Regions from separate parts of the Homo sapiens genome. Here region 2 is linked to region 1. Evidence: fine-mapped expression QTL. A gene starts in region 1. The other region holds a variant in brackets. All regions are shown on one strand. Distances are between the middles of the regions.

What was found.
Region 2: its variant is fine-mapped to the expression of NAAA in lymphoblastoid cells (TwinsUK, PIP 0.95).

What each region holds. Positions count from the first base shown.
Region 1 is chr4:75,933,410-75,948,682 of GRCh38, forward strand. It overlaps NAAA (N-acylethanolamine acid amidase), which reads right to left and starts at 7,604. Exons shown (of 11, transcript NM_014435.4): 1 at 7,335-7,604; 2 at 6,592-6,756; 3 at 2,700-2,826. The coding sequence starts at 7,540. RefSeq lists silencers at 6,887-6,956, 7,357-7,826.
Region 2 is chr4:75,892,775-75,908,047 of GRCh38, forward strand. It overlaps PPEF2 (protein phosphatase with EF-hand domain 2), which reads right to left and starts at 9,678. Exons shown (of 17, transcript NM_006239.3): 1 at 9,456-9,678; 2 at 3,497-3,609. The coding sequence starts at 3,551. The variant C/T (reference allele first, on the strand shown) is at 8,844.

The DNA of each region.
Region 1 (15,273 bases):
TCTCCACGCATGGTGGTAAAGCAGAAATAAGTCTTCCTTACTACTCAAATGTAATTATATGGAAAATAAAAAGTAATTATATGGCCACCTCATTTGCGTGACACCGTGATCGTCAGGGTCACTCTTGGAGGGCTGAGAAAATTGAAGTTATGAGATCAAAAGTCACATCGTAGTTTTCAATTACGATACATAATTATAAATAATTTTGAGATATAATTTGTAAGATATTTTATCTTGCAGCTCTGAAAATCTGTCTTTACTTCTGTTTGTACTTCCCAGTTGTTTCTGCCTAGTCAGTTAACATAAACAAACCCTTAGCAGGGAATTTTAAGTTACAGCCTGGTGCCTGGTGCGGTGGCTCAAACCTGTAATCCCAGCACTTTGGGAGGCCGAGGCGGGTGGATTATCTGAGCTCAGGAGTTCAAGACCAGCCAACATAGTGAAACCCCATCTCTGCTAAAAATACAAAAATTAGCCGGGTGTGGTGGCACCCTCCTATAGTCCCAGCTACTTGGGAGGCTGAGGCAGGAGAATTGCTTGAACATGGGAGGCAGAGGTTGCAGTGAGCCGAGATCGCGCCACTGCACTCCAGCCTGGGTGATAGAGCGAGACTCTGTCTCAAAAATAAAAACAATAGTAGTAGTAATAATAATAATAATAATAATAATAATAATAATAATAATAATAATTTACAGCCTAATTAAGGCTGTAAACAAAAACTATCAGTAGGCCTAACGCCTGGGTTCTGGCCCTACCTCTGCCATGTCTCTAGAGGCCTTGTGATTCGGGGCAAGTCAGTCTCTGTGAAGCTGGGCCCCCTCATCTAGAAAGTAAAGATTAAAATGTTGACTTATGCCTGCTTCACAGGGCTGCTGGGGGGATCGAATGAGGTCCTGTGTATGATAATACTTTTGTTGTTGTTGTTGAGATGGAGTCTCACTCTGTCACTGGGCTAGAGTGCAGTGGTGCGATCTCAGCTCACTGCAACCTCCGCCTCCCAGGTTCAAGCGATTCCCCTGCCTCAGCCTCCCAAGTAGCTGGGATTACAGACACCCACCCACACGCCCAGCTAATTTTTTTTTTTTTTTTTTGTAGTTTTAGTAGAGACGGGGTTTCACCACATTGGCCAGGCTGGTCTTGAACTCCTGACCTCGTGATTCGCCTGCCTCGGCCTCCCAAAGTGTTGGGATTACAGGCGTGAGCCACCGCGCCCAGCCAAAAATACTTTTAAGATTACAAACACTAGACAAGAATGAGAGATGAATTATTTTGTGGATAACCTGTTCTTAATTTCATAAAACAATTTCTTGGCCATGAGTCCTCCATAGAAAAGCAATACCCAAGTGTAAACTGTCTATATTCAGTAACAGTCACCTGAGTACTGAGAGTAAAACTACCTCTACAGACTATTTCTCTATAGATTATTTCATGGGAACTCCAGGAAAAACAAAAACAAATGAAGCAACAACTATTAGAGTGAGTTTCAGAGCAGCTGAAATAATTTATTTTCATTGCATTTATTCCTTTGTCTCTTTATTAAGAGTATTAGCTCATTATAGAACAATGGAGAAAAAACATGAATAAATAATAAATAATATTATCCTTCATTCAGTAATAACTTAATATTTAGCAGATTTCCTTTGAGAATTTATTATGCATTTATATTATCGTTACCACTTAAAATCATTTTTAAAGTAATTCAGCTAGAAATCAAATTGTTAATAGTGGCAAAGTAAAGAAATGGGACTGGAAAGGAGAAACTTTTACTTTAAATATTTCTGTACTGTTTGAATTTTTTATGAAAAAAAGTGTTTGTAAAAGCAGATGACTGAGTAGTTAGTAAATGAGTTTTTAGTATTTGTGAATCAACCCCTAAATGCAAAGAACAAAGGGAATATAGTCCTTGTCCTTACAGCCAAAATCTGGCTTTTGCACTCTGTATTCTGTTTTACAGCAAAACATGCTTTGCGTACTCAATGAACATTGATTAATTCTGTCTCTCTAAAAGTTTACACAGTTGACAACAGCACACACTAGATTATAGTTTTAAAGGGACCATGCTATAAACAAAAGATCTAAGTATAATTTTTTAAAGATCATACACAAGAAAGTGGTGTGGGTCAATCACACTTGCAGAATGAAGGACCATTTATTATTTGGCTACAACTTTACATAGACTACTTCATTTAACATTTATAACTATCGCAGTAAAGTAGTTATGAGCCTCCATGAGCTGTAGTCTGCAAAATTAGGGAATGAGTAATTTCTCAGGTTCACAAAGGAAGTACAGTAATTGATAGAATCAAGATTTAAACCTGGGACTGTCAGATCCCAAAGTTGGGTGTTTCTAGTTATTGCACTACCCAGCCCCTCCATATTCCAGAAGCAGCCTGGGCATGGGAAAGCAGAGGAAAGAGCTGACTCTGCATAAGTGGATGATTGATCACTCTCTAAAAGAGATTTCCCTATGGAAAACTGGGTGACCTCTTTAAGTAGACACTGAATAATAAATAATAAATGACCGTCCTTCCTATAAGCATAATTGATGCAAACCTCTCTTCTGGCTTTGTTTTTCCAGGGGTGTGATTTTTTTGTGTCTTACACTGATAACACACTTAAGTTAGCAGGCCATCCAAATGACTGCTAACTTGAGTTTGCAAATCTTTCTGATTTTTTATCTTATATGGTACGGATTATACCTGCCCATTCTTTAAGAATTGCACATCCACTGTCAGCTTGCGTAAGACATTCCCAAAAGGATAATCCAAATTCCGACCATGGTAAATGTGGCCTCTGGAGTCTTGAGCCACAATACTGGTGCAGAACCTGAGAAAAGGGAAAAGTCCAACATGAATGAATAAGACAAATAAGAAAAAAAAGGAAAAGGAGTTTTTCATTTGTAAAACAAATCCTCAAAGTAAAAGTTTTTCTTCCTTATAACTGATATATGTGCTATAATGCTTGTATAAGAATATAGATTAACAATTCAAGATGAAAAACACAACTGGATACAACTCATCTGTGTTCATTCAGTGTTTCTAGGATCTTTACCCTTAGCACACATGGAGGGCATCATAAGCATAGTAAGTGAGAATTTCATCCTCAGTCTAAATCTGAAGTGAAACTAACCCATCCTGGGCTCAGGACACCTCTGAACTCTGCTTTTTCCTCTGCATGGCAGCATGTATTCTATTTAACACATGATTCAAAGCCAGCTCAAGCTCACCTCTCCATATATGAATTCCTCAGAGCAAATAAAGTAACACTAAACCATTGTTTCACAAATGTTTCATTTTGTCCCCTTGGGAAAATGGCTGGCTCTTAAGGGACTTGGCACTTTTCCTTTCTCTCTCCAGCTCCTTGCACAGAGATCATAATTTTAAAAAAGGGGGAATCTCTATGAACAGAAGTATTGTGAGAAAAAGAGGAGGAGGCTTGTTAAGTATCTATCCATATTCTCTGAGAATATTTAACTGTACATGAAAAAATATTTATATACAGTATGTCCAATACCAGAGGGAAAAATATGTATATCCACATGAACAAAACTGAGAGAAAATATCCTGAAGGGTTTTTCTGGTCATTTTTTAATAACAGGATGGTGGTTAGCTTTGTTTTTTTACTTTTCTACATTTACTGATTTTCTACAACGATTACATGTTACTTTTATAATTGGGGAAAAAAGTGTTACTTTTTGTTTGTTTGTTTTAAGATGGAAACTTGGGCTGGGCAAGGGCACAGTGGCTCATGCCTGTAATCCCAGCACTTTGGGAGGCCAAGGTGGGTGAATCATGAGGTCAGGAGTTTGAGACCAGCCTGGCCAACATAGTGAAACCTCATCTCTACTAAAAATACAAAAATTAGCCGGGCATGGTGGCGCACACCTGTTGTCCCAGCTATCTGGGGGGCTGAGGCAGGAAAATCGCTTGAACCAGGGAGGCGGAGGTTGCGATGAGCCAAGATCGTGCCACTACACTCCAGCCTGAGTAACAGAGTGAGACTCCGTCTCAAACATAAATAAATAAAATAAAATAAAGACGGAAACTTGGTCAGTTTTAATTCCCTCCAAGGTTTCTGTTATTTATTTATTTATTTATTTATTTTGAGTCTCTGTCACCCAGGCTGGAGTGCAGTGGTGCAATGTCGGCTCACTGCAGCCGTGACTTCCCGGGCTGAAGCGATCCTCCCACTTCAGCCTCCTGAGTATCTGGGACCACAGGCGCAAGCCTCCACATCCGGCTAATTTTGTGGTATTTTTTGTAGAGACAAGGTTTTACCATGTTGCCCAGGCTGGTCTCGAACTCCTGGGCTCAAGAGATCCATCCACCTCAGCCTCCCAAAATGCTGGCAATGCAGGCGTGAGCCACTGTGGCCGGCCACCCTCCAAGGTTTCTGAGCTTAACTTCAAAGAGTTCAGGTCAGGGAGGGGACTGGTAAGACATGGGAAGTACTAAAGCAAAGTTTGTGGGATCTCTCTCAGAGGCGATTTTTCAAAATTGGCAAGATAACAATACTTCCATCTCAGGCCCAAATGTTGTAGTGTGATGCAGCAGTGCACAAGCATGGGAGACAAATGAGGAAACAGGCTCTGCTTTGAAAGGCACTGCAGCGAACTGGAGATTCCCATGCTTTTAGCACTCACCAGCCACCTGACTTCCAGCAAGGTGGCCCCACTGAGGCTTGGTTTCCACATCACAAAACAGATGATACCATCTTCCCCACGGGACTGTGTTCATGAAGTGCCTGGCACCCAGTAGGCTCAATAAAGGGTAGCTAGTATTATTCTAATTCAAGAAGGCTTACTTCCAACATGAGAAGAAAGCATTTCCTTTGTTAATGCTAGTGAATTGAATGGTGCTATTAGGCAATTCAATAAATACCTTAGTATCAAATCCAAAAGTTAGAATGTTTTTACTAGAACTTTTGCTTTAATGTGTTTGAATATGGTGACTCCAACAGATGAGGGTAAAAATGATTCGTGATTTTTCATTGAGAAAGCTGTAAGTTAAAAATAGGAAAAAGTTGGAGGTAGGAGAGGGAGGTGGTAAAATTATAATAACTTAGTTCAACTGAAAAGCATGTTATTTAGCAGGCCTGTGTCTTTTCTGTGCCTGAAAGCATTTCCTGAAGAGGAAGGCAGTCCCAGTGCTTTTTAGCTTACTCTGCCTAGGTGTTCTGGGAAAATGCCTGGGCCAGTAAAGTTTCATTATTCCAAGATCTTTTCTACCCCCATCATCTTTAGGCAGCAAGAAGCTCTAAGTATGTACAAGAGGTTACGAGATGAAGCTAGTCTGCTGGCAAAACAATAAGTATTGAAGGAAGAAACCAAGTCAAAACCTCTCTTTATTCCAGGGCCTATTACTGAGCCCATAAACCTTTAGTGGTCCCCTGCACTTTGCCTGGGATCAACCACACACTCCATGTTGCTTTCACTTCTGGGTGCACTTTTTTTCTTTGATATGGAATCTCGCTTTGTCGCCCAGGCTGCAGAGTGCAATGGTGCCATCTTGGCTCACTGCAACCTCTGCCTCCTGGGTTCAAGTGATTCTCCTGCCTCGGCCTCCCAAGTAGCTGGGATTCACAGGTGCCCGCCACCAGGCCCTGGTAATTTTTTTGTATTATTAGTAGAGACGGGGTTTCACCATGTTGGCCAGGCTGGTCTTGAACTCCTGACCTCAGGTGATTCACCCGCCTCGGCCTCCCAAAGTGCTGGGATTACAGGCGTGAGCCACCGCGCCCAGCCTGGATGCACATTTTATCATGCCCACTTCCCGGTCCAAACACTGGCTGGCCCTATTAGAGCAGTGTTCCCTGTCGCCCCAGCCCTGGTGGACACAGACACTTCAGCCACGACACACATGAAAGGATAAATGCAGGGCGACAAATAAGGGCAGAGATGAGCCACTGCCAGTATAGAGCTGGAAGGCCACTGAGTTAACTAAAGGGTCCAGATGAGAGGAGGCTTAGTTTCAAAAACTTCCTGGAAAAGTACGTTTTGAGCAGAATTTTTTTTTTTTTTTTTTTGAGACAGAGTCTCGCACTGTCGCCAGGGCTGGTGTGCAGTGGCGCGATCGCGGCTCGCTGCAACCTCCGCCTCCCGGGTTCAAGTGATTCTCCTGCCTCAACCTCCTAAGTAGCTGGGATTACAGGCGCCCACCACCACGCCTGGCTAATTTTTTGTGTTTTTCGTAGAGACGGGGTTTCACTATGTTGGCCAGGCTGATCTCGAACTCCTAACCTCGTGATCTGCCCACCTTGGCCTCCCAAAGTGCTGGGATTACAGGTGTGAGCCAACGCGCCCGGCCTTTGAGCAGAATTTTAAAAGTACGCTACCTGGATTGGGGAAGAGAAAACCCGGGGCTACACGTAGAGGGAAAGTTTAGTGTTGAATCGGAGAATCTGCTTTCCCTCTCGAAGCCTACGATGTGCAGCTCAGATTTACCCAGAGAGGCAAAGAGGAAGCGCTGGAGGTTTCTAGGCAAGCAGGCACCGCCCTGTTTTTATCACACGGAAAATATGTCTCCTCCCGCTAGTCTGTGTCGGGGGCCCCCGCAAGCCCCGCGTTACTCCGCGCGGGCTTGGGGCACTCACACGGAGGACTCGTAGGCCAGGTTGACCAGAAGGCAGTCCGCCAGGCTGAGGTTCATGAAGTCACACATGCCGCGGATCTCGCCGGTGAAGGGCTGGGGCAGGAAGCGCTCCAGCTCCAGGACCACTTTTCCGATTAACACGTGCACCCACTTGGGGACTCTGTCCCTAGAAACAAAAAGCACAAGGGCGTCTGACCCGCTCAGAGGTCGGCGGCGTGCGACTGCGTGTGCACTGCGAGCGGGGCTACATCCTTAGGGCGTGAGGTCTCAGGGCCACTGCTCCCCAGTCAGTGGACCGCCCAGGCGCGGCGTCACTCAATCTGCAGCCTCCCGGGAGTGGGGGGAAGGGGGCGGGGGGAAGGCGGCGGGTAAGAAAACTCCGAATGGGGAGGGCGAGTGAGGCTGGTCCCAAAGGGGCAAGCTTGGAAGGCCCGCGAGGCCCGCAAGGAAGGCGCGGGTTGCCCCTCCTTGGTAGCTATGCAGCCCGGGCGACAACTCGCGCGCCACGCTGACCCGGAATGGCTCAAGGACTGGCGTGCCACGGGTGACACCGAACTTGAAAGCCGAACCTGCCGCGCTGGATTCTCCCCAACCCGGACGCTGCTCAGGGCGGCAGCCAAAACCAGTTCTCCAAGGGTGGCGGGGAGTAAAGCGTCCCCGTTTAAAGCACTCTGAGCAGCGCGCGTTTGACTCCGACCCGCAGGGCCGGTGTCCCCGCAGACCCCGTCCAGGGCCCCAGCTCACCCGATGACTTGCGCCATCGCGGCGCGCACCAAGTCCAAGTCGTAGTGCCGCAGCACGGGCAGCCAGCGCAGCTCGGGGACCGAGTCCAGGCTCACGTTGAAGCGCGGCGCTGCTGGGGGCGAGGCGGCTGACAGCCCGGCCCCGGCCAGCAGCAGCAGCAGCAGGGACGGAAGCCCCGGGCGCGCCTCCCGGTCCGCGGTCCGCATGGCTCGGGCTCCAGCGGCCGCAACTTGGAGACCTGCAGCCGCTGTCGGAGCCCGGGTAAGCCGTGGAGGAGGAGGAGCTGGGGCTGGGCTGCGATCGCTGGAGGTGGGGCCCGCGCACGACCCGCCCGCCCCTGTCACCGGCAAGCCGGAGCGGCGACACCTCCCGTCCCCGCCGCGCATCCACTAGCCCGCCCCGACTCTCCATCGGGCCTGGAGGTCCCTGACCGCGGGGCCGCTAAGGGTTGGGGCTGCCGGCAGCCGGCTTCTCACCAACTGCCGGTTCCAGCGCACCTGCTTGGGCCGAAGGAGTGTAGGCTGCGGCCGGGAGGGGCTGTAAGATTTTCAGTAGCGAAAAGGTGTCAGGAAAGACTTTTCAGTTAAACTTTGTTTGCTTGTTTGTTTGTTTGTTTGAGATGTAGTCTCACTCTATTGCCCAGGCTGGAGTGCGGCGGCGAGATATCCGCTCACTGCCAACTCCGCCTCCTGGGTTCAAGCGATTCTCCTGCCTCAGCCTCTCAAGTAGCTGGGATTACAGGCGTCCACCACCATACCTGGCTAATTTTTGTATTTTTGGTAGGGACAGGGTTTCACCATGTTGGCCAGACTAGTCTCGAATTCCTGACCTAAGGTGATCCACCGGCCTCAGCCTCCCAAAGTGCTGGGATTACAGGCGTGAGCCACCGCGCCTGGCTGGTAAAACATTTTTTTAAAGCTCAAAATTTAGTGAACATTTATCTGCTAAATATTTTTCGCGGACATTATCTCATTTAATCATCAAAACAAGCCAACAGGTAGGTTCCACTAATCCTCGCTTTACTGATGAGGAGTGTGAGGCTTGGAGAGGTGAAGCCATGTACCCGAGGTTACTCTGCTGGTGTGTCTCTGCACTGGCCTCCAAGTAAGGAGGTCTGAATCCACAATCCACCTTCACACCTAAGTTTCTTCACCTTTGAGTTCCCAATGTCTGGGAGACAAACTTAGGAAAATCTTAGTAAGGCTGGGACATTCTTAACGGTTAGCACAGTTGTCTGTGGGTAAAACAGGGTACATGTGTACATGAATAGTAGAAACTAAATGAAAGGGCCGGGCATGGTGGCTTAGGCTTGTAATCCCAGCAGTTTGGGGGGCTGAGGCGGGTGGATCACCTGAGGTCAGAAGTTTGAGACCAGCCTGGCCAACATGGTGAAACCCTGTCTCTACTAAAAATACAAAAATTAGCCGGGCGTGGTGGTGTAATCCCAGCTACTTGGGAGGCTGAACAGGAGAACCTCTTGAACCTGGGAGGCAGAGGTTGCAGTGAGCCGAGATTGTGCCAATGCACTCTAGCCTGAGTGACAAGAGCAAAACTTTGTCTCAAAAAAAAAAAAAAAAAAAAAAAAAAAAAAAAAAAAAAAAAAAAAAACTAAATGCATAGTAGAAACTAAACACATTTTTTTTTTATTTTTTACCAATTTTAGGATGAAGAAATACAACTTTTATAATCAATCACTTGTTTTTAAGGATAACACTTAAAGGAATTACAAAATTTCTTGCCAGACATGGTGGTTCACGCCTGTCATCCCAGCACGTTGGCTGGCTGATCATCTGAGGTCACTTGGTTTAATGAATAGAATCAGAATTGCTGGTGGTTGACTTCCAAGACTAGGTCACAAAAGACACTGTGGGTTTCTCCTTGCTCTCTTGAATTGCTCACTATAGGAAGCCCATTGTCATGTCCTGAGGAAGCCCTATGAAAATGTCCCTTTGTGGCTGGACACAAATCTCAGCACTTGGAGAGTCAGGCAGGAGGACTGCTTGAGCCCAGGAATTGGAGACCAGCCTGGGCAACAGTGAGACCCCATCTCTACAAACAAATAAAAATAAATTAGCCGGGCATGGGGGCATGTATCTTTAGTCCCAGCTACTTGGTAGGCTGAGGTAGGAGGATTACTTGAGCCCAGGAATTTGAGGCTGCAGTGAACTATGATCACGCCACTGTACTCCAGCCTAAATGACAAAGTGAGACCCTGTCTCCAAAAAAGAAGTAAATAAAATTGAAAAAAAAGAAAAAAGAAAGTCCCTTTGTTGAGGAACTGAGCTTCTACCAAGAGCCAGAGAGGAACTGAGGCTTCTTGTCAAGTCATCTGAGTGAGCCATGGTGGAAGTGGACCTTCCTGCCTCAGCTAAGCCACCCCCAAATTCCTAACCCATAGAAACTGTGAAGCAGGCCGGGCATGGTGTCTCACATCTGTAATCCCAGCACTTTGGGAGGCCGAGGCGGGCAGATCACTGGAGGTCAGGAGTTTGAGACCAGCCTGACCAACATGGTGAAACTCCGTCTCTACTAAAAATATAAAAATTAGCTGGGCGTGGTGGCGGGTGCCTGTAATCCTAGCTACTCGGGAGGCTGAGGCAGGAGAATTGCTTGAACCCAGGAGATGGAGGTTGCAGTGAGCCCAGATCGCACCACTGTACTCCAGCCTGGGTGACAGTGAGACTGTCCCCCCCCGCAAAAAAAAGAAACTGTGAAATAATGTTTATCACTTTATGCCACTAAGTTTTGAGGTAATTTGGTATGTGACAAACAGATCATTAATATAGATTTGTTTGGGAACGTAACTGTAGTGCTACCATAACACATGCCTAAAAATGTATTGCTTTGGAACTGGTAGTAGGGAGAAATTGTAATAATTTTGAGCAGAATGTTAGTGAGAGCCTAAAGTTCCTAACAGACTGATGATTAGTAGAAGTCTGATGATTAGTAGAAATCCCTTGAGAAACAAACCATCCTAAGAAAGAAACAGTCTGATGGTCTTGAAGGAGACTGCCAGCACTAGCCACTTCAGAAGTGAGAATGTTATTGGAAACTGGAAGTAAGAGGTTCCTTTGTTATGTAGTGCCAGAATGTTTAACATGATCACCTAGAGGAATGCAGAACACAGAAAAATGTACCTAAGGAACTAGGTACTCTAGCTAGATCTCCAAGCAAAATGTTGAAGTTGCTACCTGGCTTCTTGCTGCTTATAGTCAAATATGAGAGGAAAGAGAGAAGCTAGAGCAAGGACTGTTAAAAAGGATCCAGAAATGGTTTTGAAAATCCTAGGCCCAAAGTATACATGAGAACTTAGTTTATCATAGATATCGCATTGTTTATCTGTGGAGATATCTGCAACATAGGTAATTGATAAAGAATTAGTATCTAGAATGCGTAAAGATCTCCTATGTTTTTATTACTAAAAAAAAAAAAGGAAAACAAAAGGCTATAAAAAGAGGAAAACCCAAATGAACATAAAAATGTGAAGTTATTTCAACCTCTCTAGTAATCAATGAAATGCAAATTAAACCATGATACCATTTCATAAACAAAGGGTTGTCTTAAGTTTCAAAGTCTAATAACATCTTGTTGACATGGATGTAGTAAGATACAAACTTACATGAGTTACTGACGAGAATATAGTGTTAATTCAGTATTGCCTAGTAAAGTTGAAGAATTGCAGACCCTACAAACCCAGTGATTTCATTTTCAGTTTTCTGGATTTCTTTTTTCTTTTTTTGAGACAAAATCTTGCTCTGTCGCCCAGGCTGGAGTGCCGTAGCGTGATCTCAGCTCACTCAACCTCTGCCTCCCAAGTTCAAGCAATTCTCCTGCCTCAGCCTCCTGAGTAGCTGGGATTACAGATGCGCACCACCACACCTGGCTAATTTTTTTGCATTTTTAGTAGAGACAGGGTTTCACCATGTTGGCCAGGCTGGTCTCAAACTCCTGATCTCAAGTGATCCGCCTGCCTTGGCCTCCCAAAGTGCTGGGATTACAGGCGTGAGCCACTGTGCCCAGCCCATTTTCAGTTTTCTATCTAAACTTTGTTTAAAGAAAAAACTCTAAGACCATGAACCCTAGAAGACATGTTCAAAGATGCTTACTGCAGCAAGGTTTTAATTAAATTAATTAGTTAGTTACTTTTTTTGAGAGGGAGTCTCACTCTGTCACCCAGGCTGGAGTGCAGTGGTGTGATCTCAGCTCACTGCAACCTCCCCCTCCTGCCTTCAAGTGATTCTCCTGCCTCAGCCTCCCAAGTATCTGGGATGTGCCACCATGCCTAGTTAATTTTTGTATTTCTTAGTAGAGCAGGGTCTCACCATGTTGGCCAGGCTGATCTCAAACTCTTGACCTCAGGTGATCTGCCTGCCTCAGCCTCCCAAAGTGTTGGGATATAGGCGTGAGCCACTGTGCCCAGCCTGCAAGGTTTTTAAATAGCAAAAAAAGTGGAAAACTTTTTCTAACTGCTTTTTGGTAGAATGATAAATTGTGGATGTATGAATAAACAATGGAAACTATACAACAATTAAAATGAATCTCCATCTATCAAGAATCTAATGTTGAGTTACATAGCAAAAGAATTTATAGGATACTGCTTATGTAAAAATTTATATATACATACAAATATACAAGGGAAAGAAAAAACTGCAGGAATGATAGGCATCAACCTCTGGATAAGGATTATCCCTGAGAAGGGGGTGGGAAATGGCTGAGTGGGACATAGTTATACTCTTAATGTTCATCAACTTCTAGATAAGGGTTATCCCTGAGAAGAGGCGGGGAAATGGCTGAGACATAATTATACTCTTAACGTTCTAGTTTTTAAGTTTTTAAAAAAGCAAAATATTAACACTGAATAAAACTTGGAGATGAACAAGTTTCATTATTTTCTATATGTATGTTTTTTAAAAATCACAAAATGATAAAATGTTTAAAAGATTTAAAAAGATTTAAGTATCCTTAAAACAAGATGTTCTGTTGAACATCATTTATTCTTAGTTTCCATGTAATTCTTTTGAACTTCCCCTTTTGTAACATTTCCCAGAATTAGGGTTTCCATTTTGTTCTTAATTTTCTTTTCCTCCTTGGCCAAATTTCTTTTAAAAACACCTCTGATGGTAACATAGATATTAGGAATAGCAAGTACAACAAAATTGGATCTTACGAAGATGGAACTAGAAGTATTTTAGATTAAAAAAATTTTTAGTAGAAATGTTTGATAAGCAACATTACAAAATATTTAAAATGTAAAGGAGTTCATGGCCATGAGCTGTAAAAAAATTTTTTTAAATGTAAAGGAAAAAATCCAATCAGTTATATTCCCATCACCCAAACCTAGCAACTACTTTCATATGCATATTTTATTTATGAAATTGTAGTTATACGAAGCACCATTATTTTATGTATCTTGAAGAAAAATTCACTGCCATTTAAACTATGATACGCTGTCTTACTAGAATTTAAAAATGTGTATGTATTGAAAGAGTTTTCTTAAGTTTTTTGTCAAAATTATTTGAAAATCACATATCTACTCTTCTATGTTTTTAAAAAGTGAAATAAATTAAGCTATTGCTTAAGCTTCTTTGCATTCTGAATTAGATTCTCCTGAATCACCATTTGACTACAGATACCCATGTTTTTCCACACCACACTACTTTTCTGTGCCATTAAGAATCTTGGCTGGATGTGGTGGCTCACACCTGTAATCCCAGCACTTTGGGAGGCCGAGGACGGTGGATCACTAGAGGTGGTCAGGAGTTTGAGACTAGCCTGGCCAACATGGTGAAACCGTCTCTACTAAAAATACAAAAAATTAGCCGGGCATGGTGGTGTGCGCCTGTAATCCCAGTGACCCGAGATCGTGTCACTGCATTCCAGCCTGGGTGACAGAGTGAGACTCCGTCTCAAAAAAAAAAAAAAAAGAAAAAAAAAGAATCTTAGTGCTGGCCAGACATAGTGGCTCCCACCTGTAATCCCTGCACTTTGGGAGGCCAAGGTGGGAGGATCACTTGAGGTCAGAAATTTGAGACCAACCTGGGCAACATCGCGAGACCCTGTCTCTATTAAAAATAAATTTTAAAAAATGATTAATAGCTAGGCATTCTGGCCTGGGCCTGTGGAGGATCTCTGGAGCCCAGGAGTTCAAGGCTGCAGTGGGTTCTGATTACACCACTGCACTCTGGCCTAGGTGACAGAGCAAGACCCAGTCTCTGAAAGAAAAAATAAAAGTCTTAGTGATGCCTCATTTCTTAAAAGTTCTCCACTCACGAAGGAGGTTTCAAGGTGTTTGTAATGTTTCTTAATCTGAGTGCTGGTTACAGGAATGTATTCAGCTTGTGAAAATTCATTGAGTTTAAGTACACTTGATGGTACCTGTACTCTTCTTTACATGTCGATAAAGAGTTTGGAATTTTTTAAAAGTTCCAGTTTTTTTCTGGAATTTTCATAAAGGCTACTAATTCCCATTCTGCAAATTTTGATGTTGGTCCCTGCTTCATGTTAGCAGATGTCAAGTGAAAATAGCAGACCAGGTTTGTGAATGTGCAGGCAATGACAACTACATCAAGACTGTTGTCTGGCTGCAAACATTTTTAAACATCTCAATTTCAGAGATTAAATGTGTAAAGAAATTGTCTTAAAACCACTTGATCATTTTATTTATTTAGAGACAGAGTCTCGCTCTGTCACCCAGGCTAAACTACAGAGGCTTGAACTTTACTCACTGCAGCCTTGACCTCCGGCACTCAAACGATCCTCCTGCTTCAGCCTCCTGAGTAGCTGGTATGGCAAGCATGCACCATCACACCTGGCTAATTTTTACAAGGTCTCACCATGTTGCCCAGGCTTCTTTATCATTTTATACTCTGCTTTTGAAAATAATAGTGGCCAGGTACAGTGGCTCACGCCTATAATCCCAGCACTTTGGGAGGCTGAGAAGGGTGGATCACTTGAGGTCAGGAGTTCGAGACCAGCTTGGCCAACATGGTGAAGCCCTGTCTCTACTAAAAATACAAAAATCAGCTGGGTGTGGTGGCGGGCACCTGTAGTCCCAGCTACTCAGGAGGCTGAGGCAGGAGAATTGCTTGAATCCAGGAGGCAGAGGTTGCAGTGAGCTGAGATTGTTCCAGTGCTCTCCAGCCTGGGCTGGAAAAGAACAAGGTGATCTGCCTGCCTTGGCAGAAAAGAACAGGAACAGCCTGTTTTGAAAAGAACAAAAGACATTGTAAACACTGGAAATGTTTACAATGGGAAATGCTTATTATAATAATGGCTGCATAATACTCTATCATGTGGATAAATGATAGTTTTATTCAACCATCTTCACACTGGGATTGGACTGACAAAACATGAAAGCAGAATCTACAGAAGGAAATAAGTTTACTACCTAAGAAATGGTCTATACAAATATAAGCTTATGCTATTTAAGGAGTACAAAATTAGCTGTGTTCTCTGCTTTTATTTGCATTTGTAAACACGTGCAGACCAAAGACTCTGCTAATATTGGAAAGGTTCTTTCTAGAGCCTTGACCTTGTAAGAGAAAAGGCTACAAGTCATTGTCCTATATTTTTATTCATATTTAAGATCTTTTAAAAAATCTCATAAAGTACATTTCAAAAGAACATAAGCAATTGATGAAAGACTGTCACTTGGTAGAACTATATTATCTATATATGGTTTTAAAATGTGTTATCTAAAATAGTTTAAAGAACAGAATATTCTGAGTAAACATTCTAGTTGAAATGGAGTTGCAATGCAAGTCTATACAGAGTAAATTTTCAAAGGATTAGACTTTGAAGAAATAACATTTATATTAACCATGGTCACTTGCTGAGATCATATAGCTAATATATCAGCATTCTGGATTTATATACCACTTTTATACATTATGAGCCTGGACAAAGTTAAGTTCATCCCTGAATGGCTTCATTCTCTATG
Region 2 (15,273 bases), 41 kb before region 1:
GGACCTGTGTGGTCAAGTATTGTTGCCAGAGAAGGGAACAGCTGTCCACATAACTAGATTCTTTTTAAGCTCCAAGGCTTAGATACACTGCTGGTGATGAATGGACTATTTGTGGATAAAGCTGGATTAGAAATCCTGCAGGCTGGATTAGAAATCCTGCAGGCTGACTCAGGTCAACCTCATAAAGAGTAGACAGATTGATTTAATATGTTTCGTTTGCATTAGACAGATAATAGAATTCTTGCTGATTTCCCTAAGAGGAAAGATGATGGTGACATGGGAAAAGAGAAGCTGGGAGGAACTTAAACAAAGATAAATTTGATTTCCTATGAAAAAAATTCATACTACTAGTATTTCTCAAAGGCACTCACTAAATAGTAAGCGATGAGGTTGAACCCCACTGACTGACTTCTGTAAAACCATGTTCAGAATAGTGAATGAGGCTGGGCGTGGTGGCTCACACCTATAATCCTAACACTTTGGGAGGCTGAGGCTGGTGGATCACCTGAGGTGAGGAGTTCAAGACCAGCCTGGCCAATATGGTGAAACCTCATCTCTACTAAAAATACAAAAATTAGCTGGGCATGGTGGCAGGCATCTGTAATCCCAGCTACTTGGGAGCCTGAGGTAGGAGAATCATTTGAACCTGGGAGGCAGAGGTTGCAGTGAGCCGAGATCGTACCACTGCACTTTAGCCTGGGCTAGAGACTCTGACACACACACACACACACACACTCACACACAAAAGAGAATAGTGAATGAAAGGTCCAGGGCTGGTGCTACAGATTCTTTAGAGATTCCTGGTAAACATGCAGGTTGCTACACCTCACCCTGGACCTGTAACATCAGAATCTCTACCGCTGGAATCCAGGAAGGAATCTGAAGGTTTAACAAGCTCCATACATAATTCATACTTGTGCTAAAGTTTAAGGACCACTGAAGAAGATCATGGACATCAATGTTGTCTGCTAACACCTTGCCCTGAGCATTCTATGGCCAGTGCTGCCAATGATGAGACATACGTATTACATCCTCAGTCTTGCTTTGGCTACTCAGGCAGCAGAAGTGGGCAACACCTTTCATTCTCCCTCTTTTTTTCTTCCTCCCGGTTGACTATCTGGTAGGGTGTGGTGGGGAGCTGGCTTGCTTTCAATTGAGATGGGCTCTGGGAAGTGCAGGATCTTTTAATATCCTTTATCCCATCATGTATTTTTAATAGCACAATGCAAAAATGTATAGGCCCCTCTTACTTGGGCCATGTGTAAACTAAATTATTAGGGTACAAGTTACAAATACACCTGGGCTGTAAAAACTCTACATATAACAACACTGTGAGAAAATTGTGAACCAAGGCAATGCACAGTAGGGTATGGGAGAATAGGTAAATTATTTAAGAAAGATAGAACAGAGAATTTTTTTGATGGTTACCCTCTTATTTTTATTATCTTTGTCAAGAATATTTATGTCTCTATATACAACACTGATTTAAAGGAAAAAAATGATGCCTCTAGGAAGAAGTACCTTTCTGTAATGGAAGTATAAGCTTGCCAAAAGGTGCAATAAAAACTTAATGAATTATGACATCCCTTTAAGGAAAATAGAGAGCCTAATATCGACTTCCAATAAGAAATGGCATGCTTAAGCAGATGTAGGACTCCCTCACACTCCAACACATTAAGAAAAGCTGCATAAAATAAGCTAAATTTCTTTTTAACCAATAGTTGAAATCAAAAGCATTGAAGGGAGATCTCCGGGTGCCAGAAATGAAGACGGAACCCATAGCCAAAGGCAGTTAGAGGCACTGAAGTCAGGCAGGCCCCAGGGGAATCTCAACCAGACACATGTCTCAGGAGCTGGGGTTTAACACCTGTATGGGGATGAGAGTGAGTTCCTGGGTTCTGTGCATGGCAGGGAGTGGTAACTGGACTGTCTGTGAAAAGGCAGGAGCTGGGGAAGTTTCTGTACCTTGCGTGATCTAATAAATCTCTGCCTACCGGCCCCTGTGGTAGCAGGAGCTGAGCTGACCTAGAACTCAGTGAGATAGAAAGTCTCAGCCTGTGGCGTGTGTGGGTTGAATTCGTGTTATTCACAAGATAAGGAAACCCTGAGCTGAAGCTAATTCCAAAATTGGTCCAAACAAGTGACAAACTGGGAAAAAATATTTGCAATTTATATCACAGTTGATATCCCTACCATATTAGAAATGATTTCACTCGGTCACCCAGGCTGGAGGGCAGTGGCATGATCATAGCTCACTGTAGGCTTGAACTCCTGTGCTCAAGCAATCCTCCCACCTCAGGCTCCTGAGTGTCTAGGACTACAGAGGTGCTCGCCACCACACCCAGCTAATTAATTTTTTTTTTTTTTTTTTTGCTGGGCATGGTGGCTCACTTCTGTAATCCCAGCACTTTGGGAGGCCGAGGCGGGCAGATCACCTGAGGTCAGGAGTTCGAGACCAGCCTGGTCAACATGGTGAAGCCCCGTCTCTACTAAAAATTCAAAAAATTAGCCGGGCATGGTGGCACCCGCCTGTAATCCCAGCTACTTGGGAGGCTGAGGCAGGAGAATCGCTTGAACCCAGGAGGCGGAGGTTGCAGTGAGCCGAGATTGTGCCATTGCAATCCAGCCTGGGCCACAGAGGGAAACTCGGTCTCAAAAACAAAAAAAAATTTTTTAGGTTGGGCACGGTGGCTCACGCCTGTAATCCCAGCACTTTGGGAAGCCGAGGCAGGCGGATCACCTGAAGTGAGAGTTCAAGACAAGCCTGGTCAACATGGTGAAACCCAGTGTCTACAAAAAACACAAAAATTAGCCAGGCGTGGTCGCGGGCGCCTGAAATCCCAGCTACTCGGGAGGCTGAGGCAGGAGAATCGCTTGAACCCAGGAAGAGGAGTTTGCAGTGAGTAGAGATCGTGCCACTGCACTCCAGCCTGGGCGACAGAGCAAGACTCCGCCTCAAAAAAAAAAAATTTTTTTTTTGTAGAGATAGGATCCTTGATCTGTCGTCCAGGCTGGTTTCAAACTCCTGGGCCCAGGTGAGATTCTCTCATCTCAGCCTTCTAAAGTGCTGGGATTACAGGTGTGACCCACAACTCCTGGCCTATTGTTTTAAAAAAAAAATTGTTAGATTGGCCACTAGAGGGAGCTCATGCTTCCTTCTTCCCACCTCATGACCTTTGGACGTGCTCTACCCTCTGCCTGGAATGTGTTTCATCCCCTCTTTGCCCAACCTTATTTCATTCATTTGTACCTGGGTAGTTTGGGATCAACCCCAATGGACAACACTAACTTCCTGAGCGAATGTTAATTCTGTCAAATATACTTCAACTGGACATTTTGGTGGGCATGTCACAAGGAGGAGAAGCTGACCTCTAAGAGCTGGCCTGAGGAGAAATTTAAGGGTTTTTCTGCTTCTACCCTCAGAACCCCCAACCCTCTCCATGCAATATGGGCTTTGTGGTACCCACAGCTGGTTTGGAAAGTGGGAAACACGTACCTCTCTCTGCATTCTGGAAAGCAAAATGATGTTGGGTGGAGGTGCCGCTTCCCATAGTTTAAGCGCAATGCTCCTGCAGGACGCAGCAGATCCAGAGGACAGTGAGCTGTTTGCTGACAAAATGAAGAGAGAATCTGTAATAGGAGATGCAGGCAGAGTATTAAATCGGGTGGGCCAAATTGTCTATGAATCATGTGAGAGTATCCTCTCCACCTCTCCAGTCTAAGTGCACAAGATGTTCCTCCCCTGAGAGTTCCCTCCATTTGTCATTCCCTAGGTCTCCCGTTTTCAACCTTTCCACTGCCTTTTCCTTTCAGTCTAGAAACATACTGAAATCTCTTATTTTGCATTCTCAAAGCAATTCATCCGCCACCTCCTCCTCCCTTGACCTCCTATATTCCTCTAACTGTCACCCAACCTCTCTTGTCTTCTCATCCAGATTTATCTCAAGGGTAGACTACAGTTTTCTCTTTACTTCCTCTCAAAATCACCTTTTTCATCCTCACTATTGATCAAAGCCTTTCCTGATGCCTCTAATGTCTTCATCTTTTCAGTCCTTACCTTGCCAGAACAGCAAGGCCATCTGTCTCCATAGGCCACACCTTTCTTTCTTTCTTTCTTTCTTTTTTGAGACAGAGTCTTTCTCTGTCACCCAGGCTGGAGTAGTGCAGTGGCACAATCTTGGCTCCCTGCGAGCTCCGCCTCCTGGGTTCACGCCATTCTCACCCCCTCAGCCTCCCGGTTAATTTTGTTTTTGCATTTTTAGTAGAGACGGGGTTTCGCTGTGTTAGCCAGGATGGTCTCTATCTCCTGACCTTGTGATCCGCTTGCCTCGGCCTCCCAAAGTGCTGGGATTACAGGCGTGAGCCACTGCGCCTGGCCAGGCCACACCTTTATTTCAATTCTACACCTTGAGCTTCTGTGATACTAAACTCTTATGTTTACTCCCATCTTCCTGACTACTTACTGTCTCTGCTTCTTGAGCTCATTTTCCTCTGTCTGTCCCTTATATGTTGATTTTTATTTGCATTCTAGTCTCAAATATCTGTTGATCTCACGTGGTATATGCTCCCTGGCTGGTTTAATTAACTCTCACATTTTCAGCTATCACTTCCTACCTCTTAGATCTCTGTCTCCATCCCAGATGATCCCTAAACTTCAGCCCCACATATTCAGCTCCCTGCTAAACACTTTGATTGGGGTGTCTCAGACTCCAAACAGAACCCATCTTCCAGGCCATGTGCAGTGGCTCATGTCTGTAATCCCAGCACTTTGGGAGGCCAAGGTGGGCTGATCACTTGAGACCAGCCTGGCCAACATGGTGAAACCTCATCTCTCCTAAAAATACAAAAGAATTAGCTGGGTGTGGTGGTGCACACTTGTAATCCCAGCTACTTGGGAGGCTGAGGCAGGAGAATGGCTTGAACCTGGGAGGCAGAGGTTGCAGTGAGCCAAGATGTGTAACCACTGCACTCCAGCCTGGGCGACAGAGCAAGACTCTGCCTAAAACAACAACAACAACAACAAATCTTCCCCAAAAGCCTCGTCTGCCGAGACCAGCTCAGTCAGGGAGACCCTAACCCAGCGGTGCTAGAGGAATTAAAGACACACACACAGAAATATAGAGGTGCGAAGTGGGAAATCAGGTGTCTCACAGCCTTCAGAGCTGAGAGCCCTGAACAGAGATTTACCCACGTATTTATTACCAGCAAGCCAGTCATTAGCATTGTTTCTGTATATATTCGATTAACTAAAAGTATCCCTTATGGGAAACGAAGGGATGGGCCGAATTAAAGGAATAAGTTGGGCTAGTTAACTGCAGCAGGAGCATGTCCTTAAGGCACAGATCACTCATGCTATTGTTTGTGGCCTAAGAATGCCTTTAAGCGGTTTTCTGCCCTGGGCGGGCCAGATGTTCCCTGCCCTCATTCTGGAAAGCCCACCACCTTCCAGCATGGGCGTTATGGCCATGATGAACATGTCACAGTGCTGCAGAGATTTTGTTTATGGCCAGTTTTGGGGCCAGTTTACGGCCAGATTTTGGGGGGCTTGTTCCCAACATTCGTCTCTCTTCTCTCCTTTCTTCAAACTCTGTGCTTTAACTACCATGACCTCTGTGTTTCTGCTCTTACCTGGAATGTTCTTTCTATCCCACTTCTCTTAAGCTGGCTAACTTTATTCATTGCTAAAGGCTCACTTTAAGTATCACCTTCCTTAAAGAAGCCAGCTTGACCTGCTCCTCCTCTGAGCTCCTGAATATCCTGTTCACATTTCCATCACTGCAATACCATATTACAGTCTTTAATCTTGTATCTCTCTACTATTAGACTGTGAGTTCCTTCAGAGAAAGACTGTAAGCAAATTCATCATTTTATCCCCAGGATTTAGCACAGTGCCTGACATGTAGTAGGGATTCCATAAATATTAACTGAATAAACTTTATGCCTTATTTATTTTTTGCTGACACATAATAATTATACATATTTATGGGATACAATGTGATATTCTGATACATGTATACATTGTGTGATCAAAGCATAGTAATTGGCATATCCATCACCTTAAACATTTATTATTTCTTTGTTATGAGGACATTCAAAATTCTCTCTTCTAGCTATTTGAAATATACAATGCATTATTGTTAGATATAGTCATGGTACTGTACAATGGAGTGCCAGAACTTATTCCTTCTATCTAACTGTAACATTGTACCTGTTAATCAACTTTCCTCATCTCCTGCTTCCTTCTATTTTCCCCAGTCTCTAGTAATCATTACTCTATGCTCAACTTCCATGATCTCAACTTTTTTAGCTCCCACATATGAGTGAGATCACGCAGTATTTGTCTTTCTGTGCCTGGCTTATTTCACTTAACATAATGTCCTCCAGGTTCACCCATATTGTCACACAGAACAGGATTTCATCCTTTTTATGGCTGAATAGTATTCCACTGTACATATATACTACATTTTCTTCATCCATTCATCCACTGATGGGCATACAGGTTGATTCTATGTCTTGGCTATTGTGAATAATGTTACAATAAACATGAGTATGCAATTGTCTCTTCAAAATACTGATTTTGCTTCCTTTGGATATACACCCAAAGTGTAGTGGGATTGCTGGATCATTATGCCATATTTCTTTTTATACAACAAAGATGACACTTTCTCTAGTTCTTCTTCAGGAGGTAATGTGAGATGTACTGACTTAACATCAAGAGCGAATCCCACTTCTTTTACTCTTTTCTCTACCTCATTTCTACCCCACTCTCCTCCGCTATTTTTGAAGGTTGTGATACTGGGGATTATCAAAGAGTTGTTGTCTTTTTCTCTGAAAATCAAAATTAAAGTCTTACCTTGCTTATGTTGGCTAGTTTATTTTGAATAAACAACCAGAGGAAAAAAGACTGTGATCTCTTTTTGTGTGCAAAATGGTTCCTAGTTCTATGAGATGTCATGATACCAGAATCTGAGTTTGGGGTAAAGTGAGAAGCCATCATGTCCAAACCAACAAAACTGCTCCTAAATATTTGCACAGTTTTAGAACTAGAAGGGACTTCAGCAATGATTCTGCTTGTCAATGACTCACAAGTTGCTTTGATACATTGGTAACTTGCCTGCATAGCCAAGTTGTGTATTTAAGAGTGTTTGATGTGGGTGAGAATTTTTGTTCACCTTCTCACTCAATTTTGGGCACTTAAGCTCTCAGAGACTCAGTTTTCTCATCTATGTATCTTCAAGGATCATAAATGATATATTTAAAGTGCTTTCTATACAATAAAACCTCAATATATGTTGATGGACTGAATCTGATGTCATATTTATTTTAAAATATCAACAACCAAAAATATGTTCTTGGAGGCAGTAAAAGGCATACTATTTCAATGCTGCATGAATCAGCAGGATGGATACTGATTATTGCTGGGTCAAAGATTTTTATTAAATAAATCCTCTTTTGCCCTTAGGCAACTTTTTTTCTCATGAATTTATAAATTCAAAAATGGTGGCAGAATAAGATGACCTACAAAGAATTTATTGGAGATAGAAATATAGCATTGCCTAGAGTAAGGAAGTTGATATCTATCATGGGCCAATAAACTATTTAGAACAACCACAAGAGATGAAAGAAATGAAGTCTCCCATTAGGTAGTTGTAACTAACTCTTGGTGACCTTTTGTCACCAAGGACAAAAAGGATATGTTTTCCTATGTCATGTGGAAGGGGAAAAGGGGTACCTAGCTACCATTATAACAGCAAAGGCACATGTGATCCCTGCCTTGGGGCTCCCTGGTCTCATCTGTTTCTCTGTTATTTATGGATAATGGTAACGTCATTACAGGGTTGTTAGGAGTGTGAAGTGAGGTTATATATGAGGAGTACTTTGCAAATGTTTGTCATCGTCATGAAAAACATAGATAAGGAATTTTCTTAAATGACATCCTCAAAAATCTCTTAAAGTTCTTCTCCTCCTCAGATAAAAAGCACCTTAAATAATTATCAGTAAAGAATCAACAAAATACATCATGATGCTTTAAAAACAATGGAATGTATTCCACCATGACAAAGAACAAGGCAAGTCGATATGTAATCATATGAAAACGGCCCCAAGATATATTGTTACATGAAGAAAAGCAAATTCCAGAAGAGCACGCCTAGTGTGATATCATCTGTATAAAAAAAGTCAGTAAGTATATAAAAATGAAAGACTATACACCAAGCTATTAACAGTAATTACCTCTGGAGAAAGAGGTTGGGTGAGAGATTTCCATTTTTAACTTATATACTTCTATTACAGCTTTTGTAATTAAAAATCAATAAATGATATTTTTCTAAAATTTTTACACATAAGAAAAATTAGAAAGTGGCTCTGACTAAATAGGTATCCCATATGGCTGCTTAAGAGAAGAAGATGGAGTCATCTACGGACAAGCAGAGAACATTCTAGAAATCAATAAGAAAAATGGCTGGGTGCCGTGGCTCATGCCTGTAATCCCAGCACTTTGGGAGGCTGAGGCGGTTGGATCCCCTGAGCTCAGGAGTTCGAGACCAGCCTAGCCAAGATGGTGAAATCCTATCTCTACTAAAAATACAAAAATTAGCTGGGCATGGTGGCACATGCCTATAATACCAGCTACACTATTTGGGAGGCTGAGGCAGGAGAATCGCTTGAACCTGGGAGGTGGAAGTTGTAGTGAGCCAAGATTTCGCCACTACACTCCAGCCTGGGTGACAGAGCGAGACTCCACCTCAAAAAAAAAAAAAGGAAATGAACAGAAAGGGGAAGTAGAATAATTCTCAAGGGAAAAACTAAAAATGTGAAAACTTCATAAGGTCAGCCACAGAAAA[C/T]GAGCTTGAGGGAGCCCGAGATTGTTGAATCAGCACCTTTGGTAATCACCAGCTGTCTTCTCCCCCTGATGATTTCCCAAGCTGAGCCATCTCTCCAGGTGATGAGTACATCCACCCAACGTGGGTGAGACCCCTTCTCCTTCTAGAATTTGACTTAGCATCATCAATGCCTCACATTATCATGAAAAACAAAAATTAGCTAGGGGTGGTAGTGCAGCATGCCTGTGGTTCCAGCTACTCAGGAGGCTGAAGTGAGAAGACTGCTTGAGCCCAGGAGTTCGAGGCTGTAGTGTGCTATGATTGCACTTATGAACAGCCACTGCACTCCAGTCTGGGCAACATAGTGAGACTCTGTCTCTTAGGTGGAAAAAAAAAGTGTTTATCTGTCCACTAAGTGAGCCCAAGAAATCCAGGGCAGAATGGTCACCCAGCACTTGAAGATCTCATCACACAGATAGCAAAGACCCCATCTGGATGAGTTGATAGATAACAGAGGAGCTGTCTTTGACCTTTGTCTCAAAACAACTCTGTATTTATTTCCTAGGTAAAAACATAAGTGTCGCCCTCCTGTTCTCACCCATTTCTACTTTAGGCTAGACAGAAAGTTCTTACCTTCTTTGCTGGGTTTTTTATTTACCATGAGACACAACAAGGCAGAAATCTCTTTAACATGCAGGCGTGATCCCCATCCTGTCTTCAGAGTTGGCTGAGGGATCCCAGGCTGATCTGATTTCTTTCAGACCTACAGAGCCCATAAAGAAGGTGCAGCCCTAGTCTGCCATGTCTTCTTCCTGAAAAGCAATGGTGACATTCACAGCCCTGGCCAAGTATTCACAGTGACAGGAAGGAAAGTTCAGGCTTCTTGCCTCGAAGGAGTAGGCACCCCCTGACGTCAGTCAGATCAGGCCCCCAAGGAAGATTTGAAGGGGGCGACTGCATAGTCGGGGTATCTCCCATATACCCAAGGAGATGGGTTTCTCTAACAGCACCCACGTCAGTCCTAAATCTTCTTACTCTCCTGGATTAGAAGACTGTGTTTCCCAGGCCACATCTGAGAAGCCTGAGCTCCTTAGCCCTGAAATAGCAGAGTGCTGACAAGACACAGGGGCCTAGGGGCTCTGGAGTCCAAGGGGAGTCCTCAGCAGAAGACACATAGGAGGCATTCTTTGTTGGGGCTGGCTTTTCTGTTTGCAAAGCCTGCTTGAAATATCCTGCCCTTTCTATGGACACTTTCCTTAGGATATAACCTAATCTGTGGTTAATCACTATTCTTGGACAACTTACTTTTTCAGTTAATCTAAGATGCTCGTGTGTGTGTTCTGGTAGGTACTAAATGCACCATGGAAATTCTCAAAGAAAGTGATATTCTGTTTGTCTATATCTAGTAGGTCAAGTTTGTTCATTATTATTATTATTATTATTATTATTTTGAGACAGTCTTGCTCTGTCGCCCAGACTGGAGTGCAGTGGCACAATCTCAGCTCACTGTAACCTCTGCCTCCTGGGTTCAGGCAATTCTCATGCCTCAGCATCCCGAGTAGCTGGGATTACAGGCACCCCCGCTGCCATGGCCAGCTAGTCTTTCTATTTTTAGTAGAGACAGGGTTTCTCCATGTTGGCCAGGCTGGTCTCCAACTCCTGGCCTCAAGTGATCTGCCCACCTCAGCCTCCCAAAGTGCTGGGATTACAGGTGTGAGCCTCCACACCCGGCCTAAATTTGTTAATTATATTAATTCAGATCCTCTTTATCTTTGTTTATTCTTCCTGATCTGACCATCTTTGAAAGAGGTATTTTGAAGATTTCTATGACAAGTACAGATTTAGCAAATTCTCCTTGTATTTGAGTCTTTGCATTACACGTTTTGAAGCTATATAATTAGATATTAAATTTAAACCATGTAAAATTGCCATCGGCAACTGTGTAATTACACATGAAGCCGTATTGTCATTTAACTGTCTTGGTAGAGGGTGACATAAAAATTAAATATCACTCTGCCTTTTAAAATTCTTTTTGCATTTGATTCTCTTTTGTCTGATATTAACATTTTCACATTAGCTTAGTTTTTGTTAGTGGCTGACTGCTAACATTCTTTCTCCAAGTTGACTAAAAGACTGATAAAATCCTGTATTACTGAGAGTATGAGAAAAAGGACCCTCTCCATATACTATTGCTGGGATCGTTAAAATGTTTCATTTTGGGGGAATTAAATTAAATTTTAATTGTAATTTATTAAATTACATACTTAAAATATGTAAATCCTTTAATCTAGAAATTATACTTCTAAGTATCTTACAGAATTATACACCCATGCAAAAATCTATATAAGGATTTTTATTACTGTATAATTTGTGATTAGGAAAAGTTGGAAAATAACCTAAGATATTTTTTTATGTGGTATTACCCATATTTTCTAGTTTCCATATTGATGCTTTGACATTTTGGGGCCTTGTTGACCAGGGAGAGACTACACCTCCTGGGATTAGCTGATCCCTGAGATGCAAACTAACCAATCTAGAGCCCTACCACCAAATCCCTCCTTTTTTGGACTTTCATACTCAAGGCCGTTATCTCTCTACCCTAATCACCCTGACATCATATATCAGACAACTCAGTGCAGTCTACAGTCAGGAGTCAGCTGACACTATTCCAACTAGCTAGTCCTCCACCTGCTTAGCCGCCTTACCCTGCCTCACCCATTCCTTCCCTCGAAAACCACAGTTCTCCTGTCCTCTGCCTGTGACCAACCTCAGTGTTCTCTCCCGTGGCTGTGCAGGTGTGACCTCTCCTCTTGGGAACGAGGAGTAATAAGCTATCTTTTAAATGGCAATTGTCCCCTGATCTGTTGGCCTTATCATACCTGAATAAAAATAGAATCTACATTTTAAAACGTTTATGCATTTTTAAATGTCTTAATGAGTACAGATGGCAGTTATCACTAGGGGTACTCATGGGGAGAGTGCCATCCACAAGTGGGGAAGAGAGGCAGAGGATCACATTATGTACTGTTTGATTTATTTTTATATTAGAAATCTGTTACTTGTGTTCTTATTATTATTATTTTTTTTTTTTTGAGACAGAGTTTCGCTCTTGTTGCCCAGGCTGGAGTGCAATGGCGCAATCTCGGCTTACTGCAACCTCTGCTTCCTGGGTTCAAGCGATTCTCCTGCCTCAGCTTCCTGAGTAGCTGGGATTACAGGCATGTGCCACCATACCTGGCTAATTTTTTATTTTTAGTGGACACAGGGTTTCTCCATGTTGGTCAGGCTGGTCTTGAACTCCTGACCTCAGGTGACCCGCCAGCCTCAGCCTCCCAAAGTGCTGGTATTACAGGCGTGAGCATGGTGATGCCCAGTCACTTGTGTACTTTTTAAAAACAGAATATTTTGAAAACCAGCTCTCTCCATCTGCCATGAAAGCTCTGTAGGCCAAGCCATTTTTATTTAAAAATATATATATATTTTTTGAGAACGGGTCTTACTTGCCCAGGCTGGTATTTGCAGTGGCACAATCACAGCTCACTGCTGCCTTGACCTTCCCGGACTCAGGCAATCCTCTTGCCTCAGCCTCCCAAGTAGCTGGGACCACAGGCATGTGCCACCATACCCACCTAATTTTTGTATTTTTTGTAGAGATGGGGTTTTGCTATGTTGTCTAGGCTGGTCTTGAGCTCATGCAATCCACCTGTCTCGGCCTCCCAAAGTGCTGGGATTACAGGTGTGAGCTGCTGCGCCCAGCCAAAATTTTTTAAATAAAATTTTCAATTTTATTTATTTATTTATTTATTTTAGGCCAGGCGTGGTGGCTCATGCTTGTAATCTCAGCACGTGAAAGGCCGAGGTGGGTGGATCACTTGAGGTCAGGAATTCAAGACCAGCCAGGCCAACACGGCAAAAGCCTGTCTCTACAAAAAATACAAAAAATTAGCAGGGGATGGTGGTGTGTGTCTGTAGTCCCAGCTATTGCAGTGAGCAGAGATCACACCACTGCACTCTGGCCTGGGCAACTGAGTGAGATGCTGTCTCAAAATAAAAAAATAAATTTTAACTTTTTAATTAAAAAATTTTATTGCCTCTTGTTTTTAAAATTTATTTTATTTTGGTAAGAACACAACATGAAATCTACCCTTTTAACAGATTTTCTTCTTTTTTTGAGACAGGATCCCACTCTGTCACCCAGGGTAGAATGCAATGGCATGACCACAGTTCATTGCAGCCTCGACCTCCCAGGCTCAAGTGATCCTCCCACCTCTGCCTCTTAAGTACTTGGGACTACAGGCACACATCACCACTCCCAGCTAATATTTTTATTTTTGTAGAGACAGAGGTCTCACTATGTTGCCCAAGCTGGTCTCAAACTCATAGACCCAGGCAATCTTCCTGATATGAACAGGAGACGGGGAAATACTGGAAAGTTATTTATTTTGTTTGATTTATTTACCTGCCAAAAGCCCCACCCTCAAGCCTGGAAACCCGAGGCCCCAAATGGGAACAGGCATTCCTGTTTTCGTGCCCAAATGTTGCATCTTGGCCCGCCACACCCCACATCCTGTACCCATATAAACCCCGAATCCCTGGGTCCATGAGGAGATGAGCAGAAGAGCCAAAGAACTGAAGAACGGCATGGCAGAGAAGGAGCATCTGAATATCTAGAGGAGTCCAGCTGGGGACAGTTGGAGAGGAGTTCTGCCACAGGACTGCTGAACTCCAAGGGAAGATCATCTTTCCACTCCGTCCCCGTTCCAGCTCCCCATCCATCCTGCTGAGAGCCACCTCCACCACTCAATAAAACCCCCATATTCACCACTCTTCAAGTCTGTGTGTAACCTGATTCTTTCTGGGTGCTGGACAAGGGCCCGGGTACCAAGGGGACACTGAGCTGGTTAACACTTAAGCCATCTGTGGATGGCAGAGTTAAAAGAGCACTGTAGCATGCCTACTGGGGCTTCAGGAGTCAAAGCACCACCCCTAGAAGCTGCCCTGGGGCCAGAGCCCAAAAGCGCTCACTCTGGTTCCTGCACCTGCCTGTCTGTATCCTCCCGCTCCTATAAGGGGTTTGAGCTTGTGGCAGCTGAACAGAGATCAACACCCCTGTTGAGTGTCCTGCAAGGGGAGCCAGGGAACTCTCCTGTTTCACCCCCACCTCCGCCTCCTAAAGTGCTGTGATTATAAGATAAACCACCACGCCTGGCCTCTTAACAGATTTTTAAGTGTACAATAGGCACGACGTACAGATCTCTAGAAGTTATTCACCTTGTATAAATGAAACTTTACACCAGTTGAATGGCAACTTCCTATTTCCCCAGCCCCTTAGCCTTTGACAACCACTCTCTACTTCTTGCTTCTATGAGTTTGACTATTTTAGATACCTCACATAAATGGAATTATTCCAGTAAGCACTGTGATTGGCTTATTTCATTTAAGATAATGTCCTCCAGGTTGTCATATTGCAGTGAAGAAAACCAAAATATGTCACCCCAAAATACACCTCTTTGAAATAAGAATTATTTTGAGCTAGGCGGGGTGCAGTGGCTCATGCCTGTAATCCCAGCACTTTGGGAGGCAGAGGTGGGCGGATCACGAGGTCTGGAGATAGAGACCATCCTGGCTAAGATGGTGGAACCCTGTCTCTACCAAAAATAAAAAAAATTAGCCGGGTGTGGTGGTGGGCGCCTGTAGTCCCAGCTACTCGGGAGGCTGAGGCAGAAGAATGGCGTGAACCCGGGAGGCAGAGCTTGCAGTGAACCGAGATCGCGCCACTGCACTCCAGCCTGGGCAACAGAGCGAGACTCTGTCTCTTAAAAAAAAAAAAATTATTTTGAGCTAAAGGCAATTAAAAAGCAGCAAACAGGCTGGGCATGGCGGCTCACGCCTGTAATCCCAGCACTTTGGGAGGCCGAGGTGGGTGGATCACCTGACATCAGGAGTTCAAAACTAGCCTGGCCAATATGGTAAGGCCCCGTCTCTACTAAATATACAAAAATTAGCCGGGCATGGTGGCGGGAACCTGTAATCCCAGCTACTTGGGAGGCTGAGGCAGGAGAATCGCTTGAACCCAGGAGGTGGAGGTTGCAGTGAGCAGAGATCATGCCATTGCACTCCAGCCTGGGCAACAAGAGCGAGACTCTGTCTCAAAAAAAGAAAAAAAAAAGCAGCAAACAGTATGCAGTGGCTCATGCCTATAATACCAGTGATTTGGGAGGCCAAGGCAGGTGGATTTCTTGAGCTCAGGAGTTTGAGAACATCCTGGCCAACATGGCAAAACCCGGTCTCTACTAAAAATTCAAAAAAAAAAAAAAATTAGCCAGGCCTGGTGGTACACGCCTATAATCCCAGCTACTCAGGAGGCTGAGGCACAAGACTTGCTTAAACCCAGGAGGCAGAGTCTGTGGTGAGTGGAGATCATGCCACTGCCCTCCAGCCTGGGCAACAG